4 linked regions of the Homo sapiens genome follow. The protein of the gene in region 2 purifies or fractionates together with the protein of the main gene of each other region. This does not show direct contact. Each region holds a gene or a part of one and is shown on either strand. Other genes may lie near its edges.

Region 1 (4,269 bases), on a different chromosome or scaffold from region 2:
GACAGGGGTGGGTAAGGGCAGGCCTTCCTGAAGCTCACAGTCATGTTAGGGAAGGATGCAGGTAGAAGTCCCACCCATCCTGGTAGCTTGGAGAGAAGCAGGAATTTTGCCCCATCCCTCCCAAGACCACTTGGACCCCCTCTAGCTCAGGCTGCCATGAGAAATTCCACTCAGGCTGCAGTAGCACCTGGGAGAATCAGACACAGCCCCAGCCCTCCCTGTGGGCAGGGAGGGGCACTGCCCTGGAGCTGGCGCTGGCAGCCCCCTCACTGCCCTGGGGGCCACTCTTGGCTCCTACCTGCTCCCCTTAGTTCTTTCCACTCCTCTCTAGCCTGCTCCGGGACCTCGGCTCTGGTCAGAGAGGCAGATGGACGGGTACCTCTGATTGTGAGCAGGGAAGGGAAGGTCCAGGGTACAGGCAGGCTCGCGAGGGTCCATGCCCTCACTGTTCAGCCACGTACCTGTTCACCCACTGACACACCGGAGACAACAGGTTTGTTTCCACACACACACGTGAACCTCTCCAGGTACAGAGCTGTGCATCCCATGTGCGTGCAGCCCTGCTGCTCCGGCTTCCTCTCCCTGCCCCATGGCCTGCCTCCTTGTGGTCACCACAGTCCTCCCTGGGCCTGCCAGGCCCCCCTGTGGCATCACCCGTTGCCTAAGGGGCCCTCTGCTCCCTCCTCTCCCCTCACCTTCTGCCTCTGTCACTTCCTCCTAGCCTTGTGCTGCCTCTGCCCCCAGAACCTTCCCCTTGTCCCTCTGTGGTTCCTGGGCTCCAACCCAAGCCTGCCCCTGTCTGTGCGGGTGATGCTCTGCTGCAAGCCCAAATCCCTGGGGTCCTCCTTGGCACCCTCTTTTCTGGGGCCGCCTTCTACTCTGGCCTGTATGGGGGCTCAGGTGGGCTCTCTGGAGTCCAAGAAGCCCCTTGTGGAGTTGGCAGCTGCTCTCAGCTGAAGGCAGGACTGGCGCTTGTGCCAGGGGATTCCAAGTGTGTAGGTGAGGAGTGCACTTACGTGACTGTCCCGGGGCACTTGGGCCCCCATCTACACTGCCGGTATTCAGCCTTTACGTAGCTCTCCGCTCCCTCCTGTAGGATGCAGGTCACATTCCTGTGCACCACATAGGCACAGAGGGCCCTACAGGAGAAAATGGCACCCCTGGAATATCTGGCTGAGCGAGGCCCACAGAGGCGCCTACCCTCCCACCTCCATCTGTGGGCCTCAGCAGGACTCCAAACTCCCATGTCTCTTCTGTCTGTTCTCTGTGTCCCTGGGAGCCAACGCCCTTGGTCTGGGGTCCAGCCCCGCTGCTGGTCTCTGATTCCAGCCTCCGTGATGGGTGGCCCCTGGGCTAAGCACTATTTGGAACCAGGAGCCTGATGTGGCTGCCCCTCCCTGCGTGGGGAAGAGGCCAGCCCGGATTCTCCCTCAAGTGCCCTGCCACACCCCCCCATCCTTCGCTGATTCCAAACTCCTTATCTTGGCATTTAAGGCTTCCGAGTCCCCACTCAGTGACTCCTTTGAGAGCACCATGTCTTGTCCTTCCTCCCTGCCTGGCTCCCGGGGAAATCCACCTCTCCTCGTAGTTTTGCAGCCCCTGCCTTTGGTCCTGTTCCCTTACTCTCAGAGCAGTTCTTGTACCACCTCCTCCAGGAGGCTCGCTGTGATGTACCCAGGCCCACTGAGTGTCGGTACTCTTCCTCCTACAACAGCTCTCAAATTCAGCTAGAATTCAAGTTCAGCCAGCACCCCAGGCAGAGCCTCCAGCCCACTTAACTGAGGCCAGTTCGCAAGCCACTGCCCACGAAACACCAGAAGCTGAGGCGGGGAAAGCAGGCTCCTTGATGAGCCACAAGGGCTGAGGAGGTGGCTGCCTGGCATAAGCCGACCGCTGTGGACGGCTGTGCCACAGCACAGGCCCGGAGCCAGGAGCCCGCTCTGGCTCTGCAGCCCGGCCACGCTGGGGCTCCCATGGGGTTGCTGGGGCCAGGCTGACTGCGAGAGGGCAGCGGCCGCCCGGATGCGCAGCTCTATCTCCTACCTGGCCGGGCCAGGGGAGAGAAGGGAGGCCCGGGGCGGGGGAGCCCCGCGTGCTCAGCGCGCGGACCGCCTTTCCTCCTCTCCCTCCACCTGGTCCGCTCGCCCGGAGTCTGCACACAGCGCAGCTGGAAAATGTTACTTCGCTGGAAAGGTTTCCGCTGGCACTGCCAGGATCCCAAGCCGCCGCGCCAGGCCCCCTCGGTTCCTTTTTCCTCGCCAGCCCCGCAACCTCCCGGAGCGTAGGGCGCTCGCCTGGGCAGGGGCTCGGCCCCGGGCGCCGCCCCCTCTGTGCAGCGGCCTCGGGGTGCCCGGGGCCTCGACGCCCCCCGCGGGTGCGGGCAGGTGGGAGCGGCGACGCGCGCGGGCCCATCCCTCCCTCTTCCCGCCCGCCGCCCGCCCGCGCTTACTTGTGCGGCCCCGGGCGCAGCCGCGGGCGCCATCCCGTCGTGTAGAGACTGTAGCGGGAGGCACCGGGCGGCGCAGGCCGCGCCAGGAGCGGGGTGCCCCTGGCCTGCGCCCCCGAGAGCAGCGCCGCGACGGCGCACAGCCAGACGAGCAGGCGGCGGCGGCCCATAGCGGCCCCCGCGCCTCTGCCCGGCCCCGCGCGGTGCCCCCCGCCGGGTGTCCGCCTGCAGCGCCGCGCCGCCCCCGCCGCTGGTCGGCCCGGGTCCCGCCCCGAGGGTCCCGGGGTCCCCTTCGGCCCCCGAGCTCGCTGGCCCGGCCGCCTGGCGCTTCGCGGCGGCTGCGTCCCGCGGAGTGGCCGGCGCTGCTAGCGGCTGGGGCCGCGGAGGGGAGGCGGGAGGCGGGCTCTTTGCGGATTAGCATAAACTTGGGGCCGCGCCGCTCGCCGCCGCCAGCCCCTCGCCCCAGCTCCGAGCGGACGGCCGAGGAGCCGCCTGCGAACAGGAGGTTCCAAAGGGAGCAGCCCCAGGTGGCAGGGGCGCAGGCCGCCGCGCCCTGGGAGGCCCCCCGAGCACACCAGCCACTCTGTCGCCTGCGGGCACGGGGCGAGACGCAGAGAAGCGGACCCCTGAGGCCAGCCTGGGCGTGGACTTTCCAGGAGTCGTCCACCCTCAGGATACGCTTGTCTTCAGAGTCCGTGTGAACCCGGGAACTGCTCTCCAGGGCTCTGGAGCCGAGATGGCCGTGACTGGGGGCACAGCAGCACCACCTCCCCCGCCACCTCTTTGGAATAGACCCCAGATCATCCCCGTTTGCTCGCTCTGCCTCCTGGCCCCATCATTGCCCGGGAACCTTAGTTTGATAACTCCGCTGACCTCTCCCCAGGCATCCCACCTCCCCCTTACCCCGCAACCTCTGCCACGTAGCCTGGTGGCCCGGTTGCACCTCTGGTTCTCTGGAGGCGCCTGTGTTGCCTCTCTGTCTTAGGTATGGGTTGCACCGAGCCCGAAAGGCCTATCACCGCCCCAGCCCAGCCAAAAGTGCTGTGCTTTTCGTGCAACTGAAGCTCTAAGCCGGCTGGTCAGAGAAAATCCTCAGGTCTTTCTCACAAGGCACTGCCGCGGTGAAGCCAGGCGTCGTCCACATTTTGCTTGTGAAGTTGACTCTTGGAACCCAAGAGTTGGGTTTTATCGTCGTCCTCATTCAGTATCACCTTGCTAACTCTCTAACCTGCACAGAGTCCTTCTGATTCTGTCATCAGAGCGGTACTTTCCTGGCCTTGTCTCATCCACACCGGTGGCTACAGCCGTCTGTGTCTTTGCCCCAGGAGCTGATAGGTGTACAGAACTCTGGGGCTTGCTTGGAGAGACCTCCCTCCAAATTGACCTTGAGATATGAATTAATGCCTTTTGGATAGGGTGATGGTTATCAAGGATACTGGAAGGGGCAGCTCCGAAACCCACATCTATTTCCTGCCCTTAGCTTTAGTGGCTTTTGGGTTCTGTGGGGCGGACATCTGACCCCAGCTAGGCCCATCCTGCTTTCCCCCAGGCTTTGGAATCAGAACACAGAAGCTGAAGGAATCCAGCTTCCAGGTGTAGGTTGTGTGAGTTTCTCAGGGCTGTGGTAACAGCCACAGACTCAGTGGCTTAACACACAGAAATGTATTCTTGCACATTTCTGGAGGCTAACTCCAAAATCCATGGGCCAGCAGGGCAATGCCCCCTCCAGTGGCTCTGGGGAGAAGCCTTCCTTGCCTCTTCCAGCCACTGGTGGTTCCTGGCAATCTCTGGCGTTCTTTGGTCAAGGATTCTTTGTAGCAGCA
Region 2 (2,892 bases):
GCCTGTATGTGCCAGACACTATTCTAAGTGCTTTCTATACAGTAACCCTTTAATCTTCACAAGAATCCTATGATATAGGATGGTTTTATCGTCCAGATTTTACAGATGAGAGCACTGAGGCACAGAGCTAAGCAACCTGCCCGACTAGTCTCACAACTAATAAGCACCAGGGCAGGATTTGAACCTAAGCAGCCTGGCACCAAAAATCTGTGCTGTTATACTTTTCTTCAGAATGGGGAGGTATGCTTTACCTACTCTTCCAGCTTTGGGGTCTCAGATGAAATGGAGATCACAAGAAAAGTCTAACATCCAGTTACAATAGAAAGTATTCCAGAAATAGCAGTTATGATTGTATAGATACTGTTGTGGCCACTGCTACTGTTGCTGCTACTGCTGCAAGGAGGCTGGGAGCTGCTGGGCCATGGAGAGCTTGGGAATGCTACCCAGGGGACTGGAGCATCGTGTGGGAGGTGGGGCTGGATGGCCATCCAGGCTCTCACACCCTGAGATTCATTGATTTGATTATAACCACATGGGAGGAGCTTCATCTCACCCCGCAGGCAAACCACACACACACACTTGCATGCACACATGCACACACTTATGCCCACATGCGTACGTGTACACACACACACAAGCCCATTCATAAGCCTTATTGGCTGCCTGTCTCTCACTGAGCCCTAGAAAGAGGACTGATGATTGGCTTTGGCCAGGTGGCTTGGGGGTCATAATTAGGGCCAGAAGAAGGAGCAAGGTCATGGGGTTCAGACTGTGCCAAAGTGCACTTACTCCATGACACACGTGGATCAAGTGACAGGGCCCATGGAAGCTGGCCTGCTACAGCGTGGCTGCTTGCCACAGGTCAGACCATGCCATCCCACAAGTTGATTAGAATAAACCTGAGTGTGTTTGGGATCAGGGCCAAGAAGACACACAGCTGGTGGGCTGTTGGCAGCCGACTCCCAGCGTGGTCAAGTCCACTGGCGTTCAGTCATTCGTGTGCATTCTTCCGTTACCAGCGTGCATTCAGCACCACTGCATATGAGGCTTCAAGTCAGGCACTGAGCGTTGAGAAACAAACAGGATGTGGTCTCTGCCCTGGAGGAACCCACACACACCTTAGCGGAGAGGGGGAAAACAACCTAGCAAACACAACACAAAGTGGCGATTCTCAAGTCAAGTCAAGACCCATGGGATGGTGAGTAAATGGAGAGGTACAGAGACCTTATCAGAGAGTGTAGTGGTTAGAAGCATGATTTTTGGAGCCATAAAGTCTAGTACCATGCAGTAGTTTGGTGGCCTTATGTAGTATCCCTAACCTACTTAGAGCATAGGGTTGTGAAGATTAATTAAGAGGTGTAGGAAAGGTTGTAGCCAGATGCCTGGCATCATAACCACCACCGTCATCACTGTCGCCACCATCCTCCTCCTCCTCATCTTTTCGCACCACCAAGCCTACTAATGCCCACGGGCTCTCAGGGGTTTATTTCATTAATGCCCTGGCTCTGCCCTAAAAGCCGAATGTGGAGGTGGCTGTCCTCAGCTCTTGTGGCAGGTACTTGAGCTCTTCCAGGTGCTTGTGGGTAGGGTGGACCCAGGTGGAGGCCGGACTCACCAGCTTCTGCAGTTACTTCCAAATGGGAGAGTCTAGGATTTCAAATGGGATAGTTGAGGATTCTTTCGTACTCAGGAGACATTTACCAGGAGAGCCCAAAGGAACAACTTGGAAGTTTGCACTTGCCCCCTTCTCCCTTCCAGACCTTGGGCTCTGCAGATCTCCCTCTGGAGGGCTGTCCCTAGCTCAGGGTTCTCAACTCTTGGTCTTTGTTCACGCAGTGAAAGCTGGTGAGATATTTGTATATGTAAAGGCTGCAGGCATTTCCTTGTGTGGCTTTACCCTCTGAAGCCCTGGCCCAGGGCTCAGGTTTCGTAAGGGCTGACAAGGAAGTCCAAGAAATCTGCGTGAGGAGGTGCCAATAACGTGGATGCTGACGGGAACAGGAGGAACCAGTGCCAAGAGGAAATTGTGTGGCTGTCAGGCTGCCGATAGCCTCATGGATAGGGGAGGTCCCAGCGCCTGGCCTGCACCTGTCTGCCAGCCCCACCCTTGTCTTACTTGTGGTGGCTCTTGGGGATGTTCAGAACTTTATGGGGCGCCCTCCTTTTATGGAGACAGATAAAACATCTAGTGTAGCTTTAAACCAGCTAGGTTCCTTTATTTTGCAGAGACTGTTGCTTGCAGCTTCTGGGCACAGGGCTGGGCTCTGCAGTGTATGGGAAGTGATTGTCCAGCCCATCCCTTTTCTTCTTCACACTGTTTCCTCTAACAGTGCCAATATCTGTCCCTTGCACTGACCGCGAGCATCTCTCATTAGGTGGGTGCTAGGAAGAAGTGAAACACACATCAGCCTCTTCTGATACCTGCTGTGCAGTGAAAAAAGCCTGGGGCTTGGGGTCAGAAATACCTGAATGGAAGCCCTTGGTTCTGCCCAAGACTAGCTGGGTAACCCTAAGCAATTATTTAACCTCATGGGACCTCAGTTTGCTTACTTATAAAACGGGGAAGTAATGAGTCATACCTTTCATACAGCACTTAGACAAGGACAGCCAGGGCCCCCCCACCTGGGTCCTGTGCTTTTAGATCAATATTTCTCAATACTTAATGTGCACACAAAGCCCTGGGGATTGTGTTAAGCCACAGATTCTGGCTCAGTAGATCCTAGCCCTGAGATTCTGCATTTATAAGAAGCTCCCTGGTGATGCCCATGCTGCTGGTCCAGGGACCACACTTTGAGTGGCAAGGCCTTTCAGGGTTTTATGAGAATTTTTTTTTTTTTTTTTAGCTGGAGTCTCGCCGTTGTCCAGGGTGGAGTATAGTGGTGCGATCTCTAT
Region 3 (3,500 bases), on a different chromosome or scaffold from region 2:
ACTACCTGGAGTTTGCTATATTGCAGCAATATCAGGCAGTGCAGCCATAATGAGAGTTTGGAATTAGGGCAGTAATGACTGTGGTATTACGGGAAAATTGGCATTTTTCTGCCACTTGGGAAGATGTGTTCGAAGCTTTGATACCCTTTGAAAGCTAAGGAGGGCAGTAAGGAATTAAGGGGAGGAGCTGAATGTCCCTCCCAATCTAGAGGTTGTGCTGTCCTGCAGGTAAGTCTTGACTGGAGCTGGGGACGACATGAGGTAATACAGTACATGAACCTGTCCGGGGCAGGCTGTATCAGTGCTGCCAAACTTCAGACCTAAATGTCCTGTCTTAGTGATTCTCAAGGGATAACTGGGTAATTACCATGTCTCTGAAGAGGGGTAAATGTGATTTCTATTTTGAAAGTGGAGACCTTGCTTTCATAATACAGTTGCTGTTGGCCTTCCATTTCTATGGGTTCCCTATCCATGAATCCAGTTGTAGATAAAAAATACAATAATAAAAAATAATACAAATAAATATAACAACTATTTACATAGCATTCACATTGTATTAGGTATTGTGAATAATCTAGAGATGAGTTAAAGTATCCAGAAAATGTGCATAGGTTATTTTTTTATTTGTTTGAAGGGGAGTTTCACTCTTGTCACCCAGGCTGGAGTGCAGTGGCACAATCTCAGCTCACTGCAACCTCTGCCTCCCAGGTTCAAGCAATTCTCCTGCCTCAGCCTCCTGAGTAGCTGGGATTACAGGTGCCCGCCACCATACCTGGCTAATTTTTGTTTTTTAGTAGAGACAGGATTTCACCATGTTGGCCAGGCTGGTCTTGAACTCCTGTCCTCAGGTGACCTGCCCACCTCAGTCTCCCAAAGTGCTGGGATTACAGGCCTGAGCCACGGCGCCCAGCCTTGTTTTGTTTTTGAGACAGTCTCTGTTGCCCAGATTGGGGTGCAGTGGCGCAATCTCGGCTCACTGCAACCTCCTCCCAGGTTCAAGTGATTCTCCTGCCTCAGCCTCCAGGATTGCAGGTGCACGCCACCATGCCTGGCTAATTTTTGTATTTTTAGTAGAGACGGGGTTTCACCATGTTGGCCAGGCTGGTCTTGAACTCCTGACCTCAAGTGGTCCATCCAGCTCGGCCTCCCAAAGTGCTGAGATTACAGACGTGAGCCACCGTGCCCGGCCTGTGCATAGGTTATATACAAATTTTATATAAGAGACTTGAACATCTGGAGATGTTGATATCCAAGGGGGAACCCTGGAACCAATCCGCCTCAGATATCGAGGGACAACTAAACGGTACGAGGTGATACTAAGTTATAGTAATTTTTAAAAACCACTTTTTTGAGGTATGATTGGCATATATAAAGGTGTATATTTAGTGTATACAACTTGAAGAGTTTGGAGATTGTTAAAGTAATTTTTAACTGGGGGGCACCCCTGGAAGGGGGAGAGTGGTATTTATACTATTGGGTTGAGGGAGGATATAAGTTTCTTAAGAGTTAAAAAAGTTTTTGCCAGCTTAATGGTAAGCTATAGAAAGGCAGGGGTTAATGGCAGCTAAGGGGGCTACAGTTTGACCTGAGGGGCTTTGCCCTTCCCTGCCCTTCCACCTCATCCCAGTGTGGCTGGGACAGGGCTGCTGCTTGCAGGCCTGGTATCCTAGAGCCCATCATGTGTCCTCAGAGGGGTGTCAGGAAGCAGCCAGAGCCCTGGGACCACTGGGTGGCTTGAGGTCAGCCCTCCCTGAGATGTGGGTGAACAGGTGCTTAGACTTGTGTGGATGGAACGGGGAGGGGGGTGTGGGAGGTGGGGGATAAGGCACTCTAGATGAGTGCGAGGTAATTCCTGGATCCAGTGTGCTATTTGGGCACCTCCCTTTTCTTTAACATCAATAGCATTTGAAAGCATCTGGGACATCTTGGTCTGCAGGCTTTTTTTGAATATGAGGGAATGGAGGCTTCTCTGTTTCTGGGCACTCACCTAGAAGCCCTGCCAGGCATATAGCAGTAGGAGGTCAGGTTCCCCTCCTCACTGGGAGTTATTGTGGATGTGTCCCCTCTGCCTAAGTAATCTAAGGGAGAGGCTGTACTAATAATAATGAACCTGTATGTTGTATTTATGCCAGGCATTGTTATATGTTCTGCACCATTTTAACTCTTAATCTTTGTAAGAGCATTATGAAGTACTTACATTATTATCACCATTTCATAAATGAGGAAAGTGAGGCACAGAGAGGTTAAATAACTTTCATGTAGCTATTAAGTGGGGAGGTTGGGATTTGAACCCAGAGTTTGCTCTTAACCACACAGTATACTGCTATTGTGTTTTATATTAGGGTTTTTGGTGAGACTGGAAGGCAGGGGGAGAAAGGTATCTGCAATTTTCTTTTTTTTTTCTTTTTTTTGAGACGGAGTCTCGCCATGTCACCCAGGCTGGAATGCAGTGGTATGATCTTGGCTCACTGCAACCTCTGCCTCCCAGGTTCAAGCGATTATCCTGCCTCAGCCTCCCAAGTAGCTGGGATTACAGGCGCGCACCACTACGGCCAGCTAATTTTTATATTTTTAGCAGAGACGGGGTTTCACTGTGTTGGTCAGGCTGGTCTCGAACTCTTGACCTCCTGATCCTCCTGCCTCGGCCTCCCAAAGTGCTGGGATTACAGGCGTGAGCCACCGCGCCCAGCCGGGTATCTGCAATTAAAGTTTCTAATGGCTGAGTTTTGGGTGATGCCAACCAGAAGCCCAGAGGCTGACTCCGGACTAGTTTCCTTTGGGCTGGTGGCATCCCAAGATGGGTGATGGGAGCTGTCAGCCCCTGCCAGGAGGGGCCTTTTATCACAGATATGATTTAGAGTTGCCATTGCACGAAGATAATAAACAAACCAAGCCAGTTTTATTTTATTTTTATTTATTTATTTATTTTTGAGATGGAGTCTCGCTCTGTCGCCCAGGCTGAAGTGCAGTGGCGCGATCTCAGCTCACTGCAAGCTCTGCCTCCTGGGTTCACGCCATTCTCCTGCCTCAGCCTCCAGAGTAGCTGGGACTACAGGCGCCCGCTGCTACGCCCGGCTAATTTTTTGTATTTTTTAGTAGAGATGGGGTTTCACCGTGTTAGCCAGGATGGATTTTATTTTTTAAATTCTTTTTTTTTTTTTTTTTGAGACGGAGTTTCGCTCTTGTTGCCCAGGCTGGAGTGCAATGGCGCGATCTCGGCTCACCGCAACCTCCACCTCCTGGGTTCAAGCAATTCTTCTGCCTCAGCCTCCCAAGTAGGGGGATTATAGGCATGTGCTACCACGCCCAGCTAATTCTGTATTTTTAGTAGAGATGGGGTTTCTCCATGTTGGGAGGCCTCGGCCTCCCAAAGTGCTGGGATTGCAGATGTGAGCCACTGCACCTGACCTAAATTCTTTTTTAAAAAATCTATATCCTTACACATCTTGCATATTTTTAAAATTCTTTTTTTTTTTTTTTTTTTTTTTTGAGACGAAGTC
Region 4 (3,500 bases), on a different chromosome or scaffold from region 2:
TTGGAAAAAGCAAAATTATGGAGATAGTAACAGATCAGTGGTTAACAGGGATTCTGGGGGAGAGAGATGAATAAGTGGAGCTCAGGATATTTTTGTAACAGTGAAACTATTCTATATGAAACTGTAATGGTGGATACATACTGTTAATGGCCTCAATTGTGTCCCCCACCCCACTCCAAAGTTCATATCTTAAAGTCTTTAAAGAGGTAGCTGAGGTAAAATGAGGTCATTGCGGTGGGCCCTTATCCTTATGAGAAGAGGAGATTAGGACACAGACAAACTTAAAGGGAAGATCATGTGAAGACATAGAAGACAGCCATCCACAAGAAGAAACCAACCCTACCAAGACCTTCATATTGGACTTCTAGCCTCCAGAACTGTAAGAAAATAAACTTCTATTGTTTAAGCCGGTTAGTCTGTGTATTTGTTATGGCAGTCCTAGCAAACGAATACATATGTTATTATACATTTGTCAAAACACATAGAATGTACAACACCAAGAATGAACCCGAATGTAAACTAGGGACTTTGGTTAATAATAATGTATCAATATTGGTTCGTCAATTGTAACAAACTATCTTTCAAAAGTAAGAGCAAAATAGACATTTTTAGATAAGCTGAGTGATTTTTCCATCCTTCCCTCACAGCCCTCAGAAAAAACAATCCTGCTGACACTGTGATTTTGGACTCCTAGCCTCCAGAACTGTGAGACAATAAATTTCTGTTAAGACACAGTTTGGGCTGTGGATGGTGGCTCATGCCTGTAATCCCAGCACTCTGGGAGGCCGAGGTGAGAGGATCATTTGAGCCCAGGAGTTTGAGACTAGCCTGGGCAACATAGTGAGACCCCATCTCTATAAAAAATAGAAAAATTAGCCAGGTGTGGTGGTGCATGCCTATAGTCCTAGCTACTTGGGAGGCAGGGGCAGGAGGATCGATTGAGCCTGTAGTGAGCTGTGATTGCCCCACTGCACTCCAGCCTGGGTGACAGAGCAAGATTCTGTCTCGAAAAAAAAAAAGACACAGTTTGTGGTACTTTCTTACTGTAGCCTTAGCAAACTAATACAGGGGAGCAAGGCAAAAGCAAGGAGACTAATAAAGGGGCTACTACAATAATCCAGGCAAGAGATGATAGTGGACTGGACCAGCTGGGGTGGTAGAGGGGTAAGATACCAATAGGTTCTGGATATATTTCAAAGGCAAAGTTAGCAGGATTTTGCTATGGATATGGGATATGAGAGCAAAAAGAGAAGTCAAGGATCACTCTAAGGTTTTTGGCCTGGACAAGTAGAAGGATGGAGCTGCCATTTACAGTGAGGATGAAAGCATGATTAGAGCATGACCAAGACAGTCCAAGGAGAAAAATTAGATCGAATACATACAACTCTTTCAAAAAATTTTTGACTGGGTGTCGTGGCTCACGCCTGTAATCCCAGCACTTTTGGAGGCCAAGGCAGGCAGATCACTTGAGGTCAGGAGTTCGAGACCAGCCTGGTCTAACCTAACATGGTGAAACCCCATCTCTACTAAAAATACAAAAATTAGGCCAGGCGCGGTGGCTCACGCCTGTAATCCCAGCACTTTGGGAGGCCAAGGCAGGCGGATCACGAGGTCAAGAGATCAAGACCATCCTGGCCAACATGGTGAAACCCCATCTCTACTAAAAAAAAAAAAAATATATATATATATATATATATATATATTAGCCGGGTATGGTGGCACACACCTGTAATTCCAGCTACTCAGGAAGCTGAAGCATGAGAATTGCTTGAACTTGGGAGGCGAAGGTTGCAGTAAGCCAAGATCATGCCACTGCACTCCAGCCTGGGTAACAGAGTGAGACTCTGTCTCTAAAAGAAAAGAATTTTGCTGTACCAGGGACAACTGAAAGCTGATAGAAATGATACAATAAAGATAGGAAAAAGGGGTAATACAACATTAGAAGGGAGAGTCACTGGTAAAATATTGGTGAGTCGGTGAGAGGAGACGGGATTTAGCACTCAAGTAGAGGGATTAGCCTTTGCTAGGAATAATGATGGTTTATCAGGTAACAACAGGAAAGGGAGCATGTATGAACACTAGTGGGTAAATGCAGTAGTGAAAATTTTTGAAAGGCCTCTTCCGATTCCTTCTGTCTTCTGGTAAAGAGGGACTATAATTACTAACTGAGAGCAAGGACTATGGAAGAAGTATTGGAGATTTGAAAAGACAGGAAGAAGTATGAAATAGTCCCCTAGGAGAGAATCAGAGAAAATAAAAAGGATAGCTAAAGGACATATTTCAGGTAGGAAATGATCCCAGAGGAAGGCCTAGATACAAAGAATAGTGAGCAAATAAACCAGCAAACATGTAGATAAATATGTAAATATTGTCTGTATAGCAATTTATAATGCCCGATTTGTAGAGTTAAAAAAGAAAGAGAGAGAGAACTAAGCCAGGCACAATGTGCACCTGTAGTCCCAGCTACTCTGGAGGTTGAGTCAGGAGGATTGCTTGAGCCCCGGAGTTTGAGGCCAGTCTGGGCAACAGGATGAGACTCTATCTCTAAAAAATAAATAACTAAGTTTCAAAAAAAAATTAAAATTAGAACTAAATATGAGACAACTCCTTATAAGTGAAGAGTGGGTGATTGAAATTAAATGTTCTAAAGTCCCTCTTACCACTGGGGGTATAATAGTGTTAGATTTTGTTAAGTATGCAAGTAAAATTTCAAGAGTTACTACTAAAAGAAAAGAACTAGAATGCCAACTTCCAAACTAATAAAGGAGATAAAATAAGAACAAGCAAATATTCAACCCCCAAAGAAAGGGCAAAAAGAAAAAAAAGCACAGAAAAAAACAGTAGAAACTGGATAACAGAAACAAGAGCTGTTCTGTCAATAATCACAACAAATATAAGTGGACTAAACTTGCCAATTAAAGTGAAAAGACAAAAATTGTCAGACTTGGTTTAAGAAAAAAGTACCTCTACGATGCTTATAAAAGCATACCTAGCCAGTTGTGGTGGCTCACACCTATAATCCCAGCATTTTGGGAGGCCAAGGCAGGAGGATCACTTGAGGCTAGAAGTTCGAGGCCAGTCTGGGCAACATAGAGAAACCTCACCTCTACAAAAAAATTTAAAAATTAGCTGGATGCAGTGGCATGTGCCTATAGTCCCAGCTACTCAGGAGGCTGATGTCAGAGGATTGCTTGAGGCCAGGAGTTCGAGGATACAGTGAGCTATGATGGCACCACTGCACTCTAGCTCGGGCAACAGAGGGTGACCCTGTTTCTTTTCTTTAAAAAAAAAAAAAAAAAAGCATGCCTAAAACAGAAGGACTTACAGAAGTCCAATGCCAAACAAGATAGAGTCAAGGAAGCTAGATTAATATAAGGTTAAATAAAATTTCTCAGCCAGGCACAGTGGCTCATGCCTGTAATCCCATTACTTTGGGAGGCTGAGGCAGGCAGATCACTTGAGTTCAGGAGTTCAAGACCAGCCTGGCCAACCCCATCTCT

What was found.
Region 1: the proteins of FBLN5 (region 2) and EMILIN3 purify together in Homo sapiens (affinity purification with mass spectrometry; one large-scale study listed by BioGRID and IntAct). This does not show direct contact.
Region 3: the proteins of FBLN5 (region 2) and RBPMS2 purify together in Homo sapiens (affinity purification with mass spectrometry; one large-scale study listed by BioGRID and IntAct). This does not show direct contact.
Region 4: the proteins of FBLN5 (region 2) and TXNDC12 purify together in Homo sapiens (co-immunoprecipitation; one large-scale study listed by IntAct). This does not show direct contact.

The regions. Positions count from the first base shown.
Region 1 is NC_000020.11:41,364,019-41,368,287, forward strand, and holds the start of EMILIN3 (EMILIN-3 precursor), read right to left. Parts: upstream 2,801-4,269; 5' UTR 2,617-2,800; coding exon 2,450-2,616; intron 1,140-2,449; coding exon 1,017-1,139; intron 1-1,016.
Region 2 is NC_000014.9:91,871,803-91,874,694, reverse strand, and holds part of FBLN5 (fibulin-5 isoform 1 precursor), read left to right. Parts: intron 1-1,019; coding exon of another isoform or gene 1,020-1,198; intron 1,199-2,892. UniProt on the Homo sapiens protein: Essential for elastic fiber formation, is involved in the assembly of continuous elastin (ELN) polymer and promotes the interaction of microfibrils and ELN. Stabilizes and organizes elastic fibers in the skin, lung and vasculature.
Region 3 is NC_000015.10:64,769,090-64,772,589, reverse strand, and holds part of RBPMS2 (RNA-binding protein with multiple splicing 2), read left to right. Parts: intron 1-3,500.
Region 4 is NC_000001.11:52,045,192-52,048,691, forward strand, and holds part of TXNDC12 (thioredoxin domain-containing protein 12 precursor), read right to left. Parts: intron 1-3,500. UniProt on the Homo sapiens protein: Protein-disulfide reductase of the endoplasmic reticulum that promotes disulfide bond formation in client proteins through its thiol-disulfide oxidase activity.